Regions from separate parts of the Homo sapiens genome. Here region 1 is reported to be linked to region 2. Evidence: microRNA targets listed by miRTarBase, many of them from high-throughput screens and not tested one by one. Region 2 holds a microRNA gene; the other region holds the end of a gene's coding sequence.
Evidence for each region. The annotated mature microRNA hsa-miR-5571-5p reads CAAUUCUCAAAGGAGCCUCCC and lies in region 2 at 3,866-3,886, opposite strand. An mRNA with a match to its seed (bases 2 to 7 or 8) in the 3' UTR can be bound and repressed. Matches are read on the target gene's strand: a 7mer-m8 pairs with bases 2 to 8, a 7mer-A1 pairs with bases 2 to 7 and ends in A, and an 8mer does both.

Region 1: miRTarBase lists KCNK2 as a target of hsa-miR-5571-5p. Seed matches in the 3' UTR shown: 7mer-m8 at 1,384-1,390 and 7mer-m8 at 1,545-1,551.

Annotation. Positions count from the first base shown.
Region 1 is chr1:215,233,909-215,240,908 of GRCh38, forward strand. KCNK2 (potassium two pore domain channel subfamily K member 2) reads left to right here. Exons shown (of 7, transcript NM_001017425.3): 7 at 920-3,182. The coding sequence ends at 1,237. Among named protein-coding and RNA genes, the nearest start is that of KCNK2, 150 kb to the left of the region's middle.
Region 2 is chr22:22,882,959-22,890,176 of GRCh38, reverse strand. MIR5571 (microRNA 5571) reads right to left here and starts at 3,910; the gene lies at 3,798-3,910. IGLL5 (immunoglobulin lambda like polypeptide 5) reads right to left here and starts at 2,361. Exons shown (of 3, transcript NM_001178126.2): 1 at 1,918-2,361. The coding sequence starts at 2,123. It overlaps LOC105372948 (a long non-coding RNA gene), which reads left to right and starts at 5,578. Exons shown (of 4, transcript XR_938047.2): 1 at 5,578-6,238. It also overlaps IGL.

The DNA.
Region 1 (7,000 bases), not on the chromosome of region 2:
CAAAGAAAATGTCTGATGGACTCAGGGTGATCGATGGCACTTTTTTTTCTTTAATTCTCAAAAGATAACTACATAATAATAAATGCATAACATCTTGCAGTTTGTAAAGTTCATTAGCTCAGCCATCCTGTTAGGTGTGTACTGTGAAGATGTCTGTTCTACAGCTGAGGAGGTGGCAGCCCACAGGTTGAGTAACTTCACGGATTCCACAAACACTTTTTGAGAAACTGTGCCTTGGGTTTAACTGTTTCCCAAGTGGGCTTCAAGGTGGACTTAACAGTTATTATTTATTTGCATTCCCTGAAAGCAGAAACAAAATATTTTGTTGCTTAGTTAGGAAAAAGAGAATTCCTAAATGACCAGTATGAGGTTGGATACAACGCTCTTGCACACACCTTTTCTGATCTCTGAAAACTAGGTTCACATCTGAGCAAACAGCATTGCTGTTTTCAGAACTAAACAAGGTCACCTGGGTTCATATTGCAGACTCTTTTATTCTGCCTTGCTTCTTCTACTATATCTTACTGCCCTTTGTACATTCCAATACTTCTTGAAATTAGATACAAGTGAAAAAAATACTAAAAATGTTTTTTAAAAGCTAGAGATTGCCTTTTTACAGCATCAAAAATTTCAATGACAGGATTCATGTATAAAAAACAAGCACATGTAGAGCCCCTGAAATATTGTTTGATTCATAGAGTTTAAGTTCATAGATTAATTTTAGAGCTATATCTATATAAGATAGAATCCTGCTGTGTATACCCTGCCTAATTTCATCAATTCTCAGACCACCAGTGCTGTAAAAGACTACTCCACTCTTCTTTTTAAAATCCCAAAATAAAATGAACTGAAGATAAAGCATAGAAAATGTTGATCGGCATGTCAATATCTTTATCTTTTCTCTGCTTGTATGTTCCAGGTGGGAGAGTTCAGAGCACACGCTGCTGAGTGGACAGCCAACGTCACAGCCGAATTCAAAGAAACCAGGAGGCGACTGAGTGTGGAGATTTATGACAAGTTCCAGCGGGCCACCTCCATCAAGCGGAAGCTCTCGGCAGAACTGGCTGGAAACCACAATCAGGAGCTGACTCCTTGTAGGAGGACCCTGTCAGTGAACCACCTGACCAGCGAGAGGGATGTCTTGCCTCCCTTACTGAAGACTGAGAGTATCTATCTGAATGGTTTGACGCCACACTGTGCTGGTGAAGAGATTGCTGTGATTGAGAACATCAAATAGCCCTCTCTTTAAATAACCTTAGGCATAGCCATAGGTGAGGACTTCTCTATGCTCTTTATGACTGTTGCTGGTAGCATTTTTTAAATTGTGCATGAGCTCAAAGGGGGAACAAAATAGATACACCCATCATGGTCATCTATCATCAAGAGAATTTGGAATTCTGAGCCAGCACTTTCTTTCTGATGATGCTTGTTGAACGGTCCACTTTCTTTGATGAGTGGAATGACAAGCAATGTCTGATGCCTTTTTGTGCCCAGACTGTTTTCCTCTCTCTTTCCCTAATGTGCCATAAGGCCTCAGAATGAATGAGAATTGTTTCTGGTAACAATGTAGCTTTGAGGGATCAGTTCTTAACTTTTCAGGGTCTACCTAACTGAGCCTAGATATGGACCATTTATGGATGACAACAATTTTTTTTTTGTAAATGACAAGAAATTCTTATGCAGCCTTTTACCTAAGAAATTTTCTGTCAGTGCCTTATCTTATGAAGAAACAGAACCTCTCTAGCTAATGTGTGGTTTCTCCTTCCCTGCCCCCACCCCTAGGCTCACCTCTGCAGTCTTTTACCCCAGTTCTCCCATTTGAATACCATACCTTGCTGGAAACAGTGTGTAAAATGACTGAAGTGATGATGCCCGAAGATGAAATAGATGCCAAATTAGATGGACATTGAAGCAACACTCAGCGTTGCCTAGCGTTAAAGGCACTGCAGAGAAATGAGGTGCAGAGGTGGCCCCTCTGAGTATTTATTTGACTCAGGTACCAGTGGTACATATATACAGTGTAATTATGACCAGGCTGGTAAAATTGGCTGCTCGCAAACAATCCCCTTTTTTCCTGGCAGTATTTGGAATTTATCATTTATTAATAACTATACATTTTTAAAGGCAGAAGAAGAAAATCTATCTATCTATCTATCTATCTATCTATCTATCTATCTATCTATCTATCTAAATGACCTGACAGAAGAAAACTGTTAAAAATGGATATTATTGGAGGGGATTTAAAACAGTGGGTGTGAATTATCATTCTGATGGAAAGAAAATAGCAAAACAATGTGTTACAAGTATTTGCTAATAAACAGTATACTGCCAGCTTCTAATTGCTTTTTGATGTATGAAAGGCTTATATAATTTTCTTTTCGTTGGGTGACTTTTGCCAGATGAGAGGAGGTGGCACAGTGGTGAGTGCAGGGCACAGTCCTAGCCTTCTGTGGGTATACTTTTGGAGTTGTGACTTGGCTGTGAGGGCAGAAGTTGAAGTTGGGATCACTGTGACTTTGCACATGGAAAAATGCAGATTGCAGGCATAATTCATCTCTGACATTAGAGAAAAAGCTGTTATAGCACAATTTAAATTTTGAGAGTTTGCTGTGTTTTTTTTTCACATAAAAGAGGCTGATTATTCTTTTTAGTTTAATTTTATATCCTGTAATTCTTTGGATGGTTCCAAGATTCAGAAAAAATTCAGTAAATGCACCCCGTAAATTGCTACCCTTTCCTTTATTTTCATACTTAGATCTGCTGTACATTGTATATATATATAATTTTTAAAATGCAGAAAGAAAATAATTTCCCTAAATATAATTGCAAACTGATTTCTTTTACTTTTTTGTGTGTGGGGGTGGGAGCTGTATCTGAATAAGTGGCATTCAGATTAGGGTCTTGAAAAATAAACCCAGAATCTTTAAAAGAAGCAAATAAACTAATAGACGCTTATTTTCCAAAATTTAAATTTAAGCTAGAAATGTAAATATTCAATTAATTTGTTAAAAGTACTTTTATAAAGTTAAAAAAAATCCAACCAAAATTTTAGAAAGTCAGGCTCTTTTAGAAAGAAAGCTACACCCATTTCCTCAAATAACTGTTCCGAAAATTTATATGGTGGAATGCGCCATGTATAAACTGTGAATTGTATTGACAAATAAAGTTTGTAATTAAAGTCAGCATTTTCTGAGTCTCCTGCTTGCTGCTGAGAATTCAGATATGATCTAGGTAGGTAGAACTCCAGGATGTTACTTTTCATGCTGAGTTTGTGTCCCTCCTTTATTCAAAATATTTAAGAAATATTTTTGATGCATTGATACTACCCTTGCTAAATACATGCAGACTGTTTTCCTCAGTGGCTACTCACTAAAACCAAATATACTGAAATTCATTTTTGAAATAAGATATTTGAAATCGCATATAGTTTCAAGATTGTTTCTATTATATTACCATATATTTATGCCATATTTTATCATTGTTAGACCTTGTCTTGACACTGAAGTAGACTGAATGCTGAACACAGGTGCCTGAATGTGTTTTTTGTAAGAAAAAGACAAGTAAGCATCCTGGTGGTATTGAAGTCTAAAGAAGGTAGTTACCAACCGATCTTCTAGACCTTATACCACAAATGTTTGGACTACTTACCTTGTTCGTATCCTACATAGATTTATTGATTAATTCCTAAACAATTTGATGCTCAGTAAGTATTCTGAAACTAGCCCCCCACATTACCCTTAGGATTAGGGGAATTTTAAGAAAGTGTGTATTATGTGAACTGAAATCACTTTTATTTTCTCAAGCTTTATTTTGTTTATTTCTTGTAGGGAGAAACTTGATAAAGATTTTGACAAAACGTGGAATTTTCTAGTGAGTTTATTTTTCCATTAGGCCAATATAAGAGTGAGTAGTTTTTCCTGGAAAGATATTTGAAAAAAAACTACTAGAACAGAAAGTATCAGGGACTCCCTAATCTATATCCCTAGATGTAGATTTTAGAATATGCTCTCTATCCAACCTTACAGCCACTAAATGTGAAAGTGGTTCTTTTGGAGTTCTTTCAATTTCTTACATAGATCTATATACTGTGCTACATAGTCCATGTGACACACCTTGTTTTCCAATAGTATTTCACTCTTGTAATGCAGAAGAAAGTAAAACTTCTGAGGCCAAGAGGAAATTGAATAATGTGCATCTTGGCCTTCAAAAAAAGAAAGAACCGTGTGTAAGGCTTTGTTTATTTCTCAAATTTTAAGGAACACATGACATAAAAGACCAAATCCCATCTAATTCTGTGTCAAAAATCAGTAGAATTATTTGACTCTTAAAGCTTAAAGTTCAAAGAGACTTAAAGTTTTAAATGGAATACCAAAAAACAAATTTAGACATTCTGAAGATTTGAAATAGCTGTTTATTCCTAAGAATTAGAGGTCTAGATCAACTTGTCTTTCTTTTTTTGTTGTTTTTAATTCTTGCTGGTCTAGTAAAGCTGTAACTTATTTGGGATTTGCATTTCTTATTAAAATGTAAGTATGACTTTGTTTTTATATAAACTAAAGGGTTTTTTTATTTGAACGTTCATAACTCCATTACAATTAATGTGTGATATTTGCTTTAGCATGATTTTACTTAAATTTCCTCCCATAGTGAAACTGGCCAGGTGCGGTGGCTCACACCTGTAATCCCAGCACTTTGGGAGGCCAAGGCGGGTGGATTACTTGAGGTCAGGAGTTCGAGATGCAGCTGGCCAACATGGTGAAACTCCATTTCTACTAAAAACACAAAAAAATTAGCCAGGCGTGGTGGCGCATGCTTGTAGTCCCAGCTACTTAGGAGGCTGAGGCAGGAGAATTGCTTGAACCCTGGAGGTGGAGGTTGCACCACTGCACTCCAGCCTGGGCGACAGAGCAAGACTCTGTCTCAAAAAAATAAAACTAAATAAATAAAATAAAATAAAATAAAATAAAATTTCCTCTCATAGTGAAACTGGCCTTGCATATGCTCATGTGTCAGTTCCAAGATAGAACAGGATAACCTGGTTATTTCTGACAGAAACATTTGAGGGTAACGTATTGTAGTTATCTTAATATAGGGGGAGCTTCATAAGCTACACTTGCTTTCTTCCTCCCCCAACCACCTCAACGACCCTCTCAAAGATTTTCCCCTCTTGTTTCATACATGATACTTCCCCAGCCATAACTCAACTACCACTTCCTGAAAGACAGGGATTGGTTTCATGGAACAGGAGTTTTGGTCTTGCTCTTTTGTTTTGATTTGATTCTGTTCACTAAACCCCGGCTTTTACAATTTCTAATATTTATAAAGCCGTTTATTGTTTTCCTAGTATTAGCTTTACAAAATGTTTTCATTGTGTTAGGCTTGTCTCAATTTACAACTATTTTTTCTTTTTATCTGGCATTCCTTGTTAAAGTATTTTTGTATAGTCACCAAAAACTCACTGCCTAGTCTTTATTCTGTTTATTTTGAACCTTTAGACTTGGACTTCTTGCTCTGGATTCATCAAGCTAACTCACATGGGTATCTTCAATTCTAAAACGGACCTCAACAGAACCAAGACTCTTTTATAATCTTTCCCCAGACCTGGCCTTCTTCTGGTATCATCTATTTGAGCGGATGGCATGACCATCCCTCTGGCTGGGCAAGTCATCCTTGATATCTTCTTCTCTTCCTCAACTCTATCTCCACTTATCACCAAGCTGTTGACTTGTAAACTAAATATGTTTTGAATTTGTACACAGCCATTGCCTTAATCCAAGTCAACACCATCTTTTCCCTTCACTCAACTGCTTTTATATCATTCTTTTCTTGTCATTGATGGTGAAGAGTTGTTTTTAAATTTGCAAATTGTCTACAAGGCCTTCTTCTAATTAGTCTACTTTATGCCACCCTCTCCAGACTCATCTTGTATCCCTCTCTACCTCTGTGAACCCCAGCTCCACTAGATTTCTCACTTCTGTCACAAGGTTGTGTTGATGTTGTACCTTTACCTAGAATGCTCACTCTCTTTTTCCTCCTTAACCTTTTTCACCTAAAAAACTTCTACTCATCCTTCAGAACCCAGCTACACTATCATTTTCTCTGATAAGCCTTCCTTAACACCAATTCAGGTAACTTTGTAATATGCTCTATAAAACCTCTTTCTTTCCTTCAGTTTATGATTAGATATTCATAACTATTCTTATTTATTATATGTCTCTATCACTAGAATGTAATTCATTTGTTTTAGCTTACTATTTTATTCCCAGATACTAGCAGAGTACATAAAATCGGTGCTCGATAAATACATGATAAATGAATGAATAAAAACAGGGATTTGGCTGTTGTAAACATCTGAAGTTTCCTTGTGCATAAATAACTCATATTTTCTTAGCTCCACATTTATCTGTCTTCTTCCACTGATTACTAGTAAATGAAATACAAACAGCAGTTATTTCTCCTATTAACTACTATTAACTGATAAGCTGGTACTAGTTATTGTGTGGTGTGTGTGTGTGTGCATGTGTGTGGGTGTATGAATTAAAGCCAATTCTCACACTAGACAGACTTGCAGTTTATTAGTCATTATATACTCTTGCTACTTATAAGCAAGAAATTTATTGTTTGTATTTCTAAACTTAAACTCACAATAGATACTATCAAAGCTTTTCAATTATAGTTTAATCTTGAAGATTTGTTTAGAAATTAACTTCAAAACATATTTGCTAATGCTAGTAAGTGGATGCCTTTTTATTAGTAGAAAGCTAAATGCACAATTATTATCCTTGCCAAATAAAATCCAGCTTTTTCATGCTTAAACAAATTGATAAAGTCTTGGAAGCAATCCATTATTTGGCACATTTGAACAGTATTCAATAGAGAATATTAATCACTTACATGGTGTGATTGTAAAATTAATTCATAGAATAATTATTGTATTTCATTCAATTGATTCTTGATTTTGTATATGGTATCCCTTTTTGCACTATACAATTAATAGAGA
Region 2 (7,218 bases):
TTTTTTTTTTTGGCAAGAAAAAAGAGTAATGTACAAAAGTCATTACATTTTGTAATATACTCATTACAAAAAGAGTAATGCACATGAGTACATTACTGTTGTATTAAAAATTATATTAGAAGAAATGTCTCTTTTTGTGAACAACTTCACAAAACCAGAAAATTATAAAGCCACATTAAAATTAGGTGAAATCCCATCAGCCAGCCAGACACACCATTGACATTTTTCTATATTTTCTGACAGGTTTTTGAAAATGCATATATACTTTAAAAACACAGTTGGGTCAGGTGCAGTGGCTCACGCCTGTAATTCCAGCACGTGGGAAACTGAGGCAGAAAGATTGCTTGAGCTTAGGAATTTGAGACAGGCCTGAGCAATATAGCGAGGCTCTGTCTCTAAACTAATAATAATCCTAATCAAAATTAGCCAGGTGTAGTGGCCTGCATCTGTAGTCCTAGCTACTCAGGAGGCTGAGGCTGGAGGATCTTTTGAGCCCTGGAGGTTGAGGCTGCAGTGAGCTGTGGCCACGCCACTGTACTCCAGCCTGAGCAACAGATCAAGACTGTTTCAAAACAAAAACAACAACAGTCCCCCAAATACAATTGTGTTTTTTCACACCCTTTCTGGTAGATATTTGGATTTTTTCCAGTTTTCTCCCATCACTAATAATGCTGAGCTAACCACCCTTGTTATAAAGATTTGGTTACAGCTTTGATTATTCCCCCAACCAACCCTTAGGATAAATTCCTAGAAGTGGAATTGCCCAGTTTAGATAAACACACTTTGTTTTTTGACTCGCCGCCTGTTGCTAAAATGGTTATACATTTTTAATGCCCATAGACAGTCCCCGAGCGTGTCTGCTCCCCTCTGCTCAGCCCTCACTTCAACTTCATGCTCCCATTTCATAGGAAACTGGGCCCCTGGGTGCTCTGAATCTGAGTGTCCTCCCCATCCCCAAGGCACGGCTTCCTCCAGGATCCCCACCTACCCTGGACTTGGCCATCACCCCCTCTCCTCCCTCCTCTAATCGGGCGTCGCATCAGCCTCCAATCCGGTGCTGATTTTTCCAAAAACACAAATCTGACTCTGATAATCAATCTACCTAAATCCATCCAAGGACTCGTCCTGGACTGGGAATGGTGCACGGACCCTATGGTCTTCTTGCCTCCCCTTCCCAGTCACCCAGGAGCTCCCAGCCTCATCCTGTGCTCTCCTCTCCTCTGACGCTGCTCTGTCTTTTGGGGGCACCCATCACCAGCCAGTGCCCCTCGATCTGTGAGACCAGCCTGGGCATCATCCCAGAGGGAGATCCCCTCTCCCTTTATTGCTCCAAACATGGGCCGTGGGCCTGTTCCAATGACTGGACAGCTCCCCTCGGTTCATCCCACCCTCCCTGTGTCCTTGAGCCTGGCCCCAGTAAGCATTTATGTGCAAGTTGGTGAACAGACAGCCTTGGGGGAGACCAAACCAAGCCCTTGCTGCCTTCTCCAGGGAGTGGCCCCTGCCCTCACTGGGCAGGAGGCACATGGGCAGAGAGGAGGAGGGGGAGGAACAGGCCTGGGCACCCTGTGGGGACAGTGGCCACCACCCCCTGTGGATGTCCTGTCCCTGCCTCTGTTCCTTCCCTACCCAGAGGACTAGGACTAGGTGATTGAGGCACTGACCCTGGTGAAAATTTAAGTGGCGCCAGAAAACTCAGAAATCAAGAAAAATAATATCGTAATATGATATTAAAAACAGTAATTCAAACAAATCTGTGATGGACAAAATATCAACCCATTACTAAAGCCAGTGTCAGCCCAGGCCCCTCTTAGGGGTTAACCTTCCTCCTCACTCCTCTGGCTTGTCTCCCCTTGGTCACCCTTTCCCAGCTCTGCTGCAGGACCCCCACATCCCCTGGAATCTCTTGCCCCTTACCTGCCCCACAGGCTCCGCAGGCTGGATCGGCTGCTTCCAACTGAGGCTCCAGGGTCTGGGTCCCCGCTTTGCGGTGCAACCATTGGGCGCAGCAGGCCATGGGCGACCATGGCCAGACCCAGCAGCAGCAGGGGCCAGCGCTGCCTGGGACCAGGGCCCAGCTCCTCAGGGGTCTCACAACCCACTTGGCCTGTCTTGGGTCTCATTGGCCTTCAGGTTCAGGGGCACCTCTGGCCCGACTTGCAGCATGGGCTCCCTGGAGGACGGTGCCCTGGTCCCTCTCGCCAGCAGGGCTGTTACAGTACACCCCAGTCCATTGGCTCTGTCCTCTCCCTGGACTGGCTCTGGTCCCTGTCCCTAGCCCAGGCCCTTCCAGGGTCCATGGCTGTCACCCCTGGGGATCTCTCCCAGAGGGGCATCTACCAACTGCCCTGAAGCGGTCACAATCCAGGGCTCAACTGCCTCCCACCACAGCCGGCTGCCTGGCCCCGCCCCTGGGTGGTGCACACCTGACCCACTTGTCTTCCCCACTTCCCAAAGGGCAGCCTGGGTCTGTGGAGCATCTCCCTAGGGCCTAGAGAGCTGCCCAGCAGGAGTCCCCAAGGGCTTGAGCTCAGGGGGTTGGGGCTGGGGCTGGAGCTGTGGCTTCTTTTCTGATCAGTCTTCCAGGCTGGGTGCCTGTACACTGCACTCCAGCCAGTTGGGACCAGCCCTTTCTTGGCTGGGTTGGTTAAGCCTGGCTGGCTATCCTGTGGCCCTTTCCTGAGTCAGGCAAGAGCCCTGCAGGGAGTGATTCTATATCCTTCAGGCAAGGAAGAGTGGTGAAGTCATAAATGTGGAGTCTATCTAGACCTAGGTTACCTCTGGGCCTCAGTTTCCTTATCTGTAAAATGGGGAGAGTTCCTCTGCAGCATGAAGCTTATGAGAGTTAAAGAAACCATGTGTTTGCTAAGCACTCAGTGGGTGTTGAATAAATTCTGGTTCTTTTTTTGTTCTTCTCTTACTTTGGGATTCACAACTACTTGTGGGGTGTCCTTGGGGCCAGTGTCTCTGTTTTACAGGTGAGAAAATTACCATCCAGAGAAGATGAATGCAGGGTCCAATATCATTCCTTAAGTAGGGAGCAAGCTGCGCTAGGATCTAGGAAGGGGCTCGTCCCCTGTATTTCTATTCGTCTGTCCACCTGGAATACTCGTGCCTGGCTCCATTCGGCAGTGGTGGAGGAGGAGAGGGCTGGCAGGTGCTTTAAGTTGGGGTCCTTTTTGACTATAATATGGGAATATGATGCATAATACAATAATAATGCATTACATTATTATTGCTTTACAAGCACTAATCCTGGGAGCTAAGATCATCTACTGTCCTCCACATTTGAAGATGAGGAAATGCTGCTCAGGCTGATTCCCTACTCTTTTAATGTCACAGGGCCAAGAGGCAGTAGGTCTGGAGTCGGAATCTGAGGCCTGGTCCTTGCATGACACTAGGGCGTGCTTTGCTGATGATGACATGGCTCTCTGGGTCTAGGTGGTAACACACTGCTTGGTGCATGGGAAAACCCAGAGCTTGGCACAAAGGAGTGGCTCAATTAAACATGGACTAAATCTGGTTGAATAAACCTCTTTTGCTTCATGTGACCCCTTGTGTCATTTGCACTCCTTTACGCCCCATTCATCGCTCCCATCTTTTCTGTTGCCCTGAGAGCCTAGTATAAAAATGTTTGAGGAGATCTTCAGGACCCCATACTCTGGTGAGAAAGGCCCCTGCTCTGCCCCCTTACATTACAGAACTGCAATGAGGGTCTGCCCTCTTGCTTTCCAGTTTCTTTTTCTGCCACAAAATCTTTAAAAATATCTGCTCAAGTTCAGATCTGCAGCCCTCTAGGACTCTCAATGTTTTGTTTTAGCAACTCTCAGAGGAGCCTCCTAGGACTTCCTAAAGTGAATTTCCTGGGAGGCTCCTTTGAGAATTGCTTGGTTCACATTTTGTGTCAGATACTCCTTAACTTCCTTGATACATTTGGTGACAATCAAGCCAGACATTTTTGTGGGCTATGGTAACAGACAAATAGCCTGAGACTTCATTTCATTGATAAAGTTGATGGTTGTTGGGAGACAGTGGTCTACTATGGATCTCTGCATTTCTGCATGTCTCTCGGGCAAAGGCACTGATTGTGGATTATCTTTTCAAGAGTGTTTGTGGAGTGAACAACCTCGGAAGGTACAGAGAATGCCTCTCTTTGGAGCAAAACACAGATATATGCTTACTGTCAAGTATGAAATATTTGGGATCCCTGAGCTCTGGCATGCAGATGTCACCTGGCCCTCTTTGCATCACCTTGTGGAACTGGTGCAAGACAATGCTGATACCTTGGCAACTGCTATTGCTGTGAAAAACAGATTATTCGTTGTCTCTGACCCAGGAGTCTTGTATCTTCTGCCAGCATCCATGGCACTGTGGCAGGCTTACTTTTTAGTCTGCAAATAGGATGAAGTCTCAGACTCTTAACAGTTCTTGAAGGTGATGATAATGAGGAGGAGGAGGAAGAAAGAGATGAAGTTGAGGATGGTGATCATGACTTAATGGTTCGACTCATCGAATCGGTTTTCAAAGATCTCCAGGCTGGATCTTTATACACATTGCTTGGGTAACTTTTGAGGACCAGGTGCTGGGGGCTGGATTATACAAATAATCACCACACATCCCTGTCCTTCAAAATAGGCAAGGCACTGAGCAGTAACAGGGTGTAGGTGCCCTAACAGACATCATTCAGGGCACAAGGGAGGGCCCTGGGAAACCCCTGGTCCAGCACAGCTTCTCCACTGGGGAGCTTGGCCTATTCCTGCCTCTGATCTTGGGCTCCTTGGATATTCGGGGCTGGGGCAGGGTCTGCCCTGGGAGTCTAGGCTGAAGCTGCTCCCTTCCAGCCCCTCTGTGGGTATGACACTCACCCACTGCTCAGGACCCAGAAGCTGTGGTTCCTTTCAGGGACAGTCCCAGGTCTTGGGGATAAAAAGGGGCTGTCCCTAAATGTAGCATCCCCAGCTGCTGCCCCTACCCCCACCCTTGCACCTGCCATGGCCTCTGGATAGACATCGTCACCGCAGACCACATCCTTCCATGGTGGCTGCAGTCGGAAATCCGAGTCTGTCTGGGGACCCTGGAGGACTGGACTAGGCCTCCCCAGCAGGTGCAGCTGCAGCTCTGGCCACCCAGGCCTATCCCCTGCCCTGAGATGTGCAAGGGCTGGATCCAGGCCTGGGCAGAAGCAGCCAAGTCCAGCTGTCCTGTTTGGCAGACCCCCTGCTGAGGGTCTGTGGTGCCTCTGCAGAGCTCTCTGGGTCCCGCCCTGGCCCTTCTCTCCCAAAGCAGAGGGATGTACCCCATCCAGTTGCTTCTGCCCTGCTCCATGTCTGAGGGTATCCCCCACCTTGGCCTTCTGCTGGTCAGTCCCCTGCCCAGTCTCCATCCCCCAGGTCCCAGAAACTCCACCTGCAGGCACTGCAGACTCCTCTCCCCCAGGTCCAGGGGTCCCCAGCTCCCCACTCCCCACCATCCCTAAATTCAAGCTGGCTGGTCTTTCTTGTCTCATCTTGAGCTTCTCACTCTTGGGATCTGGGGGAGTCTGAGGCACAGGATGACAAAGTATTGGCTGGGGATATGACAAAGGTTCTGGATCTCTGAGTCCCCAGAGTTAGAAGCTGGCTCTGCAGCTCCTGATCCCCCTCTGAGGAGTCCTCAGGAACCCCAAAGACCCCAGCTCCTCTGGTGATCCTGGGTTGCAGCCTCCACCCCAGCTCTCCTCCAGGAAATGGAAGAGATCCCTGCTCCCTTTGTAGATGTCACAGAGTGGACTTGCCAACCTGGCAGGGAGGTCTTCTAGCTACTTCTACCAGTGTGGAAACACAGTCTCAGAGAGGGAGAGTTTCTTGCCCAAGGCACACAGCGACTTGGTGTAAAGACTGTGTCTTGGGACTTACTAATAGCAATCAAAGACCTGGAGGACCAGCCTTTTTGGACATGAGGTGGAGCCAGCCTGGAACTGGAGGGTGGAGTTTTGGGAGGTTTCTGTTCTTTAACCTCCACCAGCTGCCTGGAGTGCAGCTGTAAGGGGAGAATCCAGTAGGGGGCAGAAGAGACCAGCAGTAGAGGAAGCCTGAGGAGGAACTGGCTGGAGCTCTTCAGAAGAGAAAGGCCAAGACCCAGGGGAGGGCTCTGGTGGCCGGGCAGAAGGCGGTGCAGGGGCCTGACTCTGGTTTTGCATCCCTGTGGGTACTCACTCACCTGTGGGACTGTGGGTAGGACCAAGAACAAAACCACTGAGGTGAGTGAGTCAGATCCTGAAATTTTGTTCATTGTGGGTTTGTTGGGCATTAATTTTGATTTTTGAAAATATTGCATTAAGTATTATTTATCTGGGTCACTAGGTTTTTGGATGCTCCTTTAATTTTTGCATTCGAGGTGAGTGATGGCTGTCACTTGGAACTCCAGGAAACCAGTCTCTGGAGACATGCACATAGAGGCTATATATCTGACATACAATCGTAGAGCCGAGTCTCGGCTTGAGAATATAATACCTCTAGCAGTGAAGGAGCCAACTGTCCCACTCAACACTGTGTCCCCAGTCACCTGGCTTGGCACCTGGCACATATTGGGTCCTCCATGAATATTTCTTGACCAAATGAATAAATGGACCAGGATTCAACACCAGGCCTCTTTGACCAGAACCTCTTCCGTCTACACCCAGGGACCTCCAGCTTGGGAAGACCCTCAGGGTTGGACTCACTCACACCTCAGAGGACCACCAGCTCTTCCCTCTGCCACCTCCTAGGGAAGGGGCTACAGAGCATCAACTCACTGTGACATCACCTACCCAATACAGGCCCCGAGGCCTGAAATCTAGGTGACACTTAGAACCTCCTCTGTCTAGGACTCTCTCCCCTGCCTGGTACGAGGAGTACTCCAGGCACACCAACCACTGGTGTCTGGAGAGGCGAATCTCTGTTTTTGTTGTCCCTGAAGTCGTTTTTCACAACTGGAAACATCTTCTGTCTGGACCGAGCAATAAGACCGCTGAAGCCACTCTGACCCCCGCTTAAGGGGTCCCTAGGAACCTTGAAGACCCCAGCTCCTCTGATGATCCTGGGTTGCAGCCTCCACCCCAGCTCTCCTCCAGGAAATAGGAGAGGTTCCTGCTCCCTCTGTAGATGTCATGGACTGGCCCACCTGACAGGGGGTCTTCCCACTACTGAGGAGGAAACAGAGGCAGAGAGAGAGAGGGAGAGGGAGGGGGAGGGGGAGGGG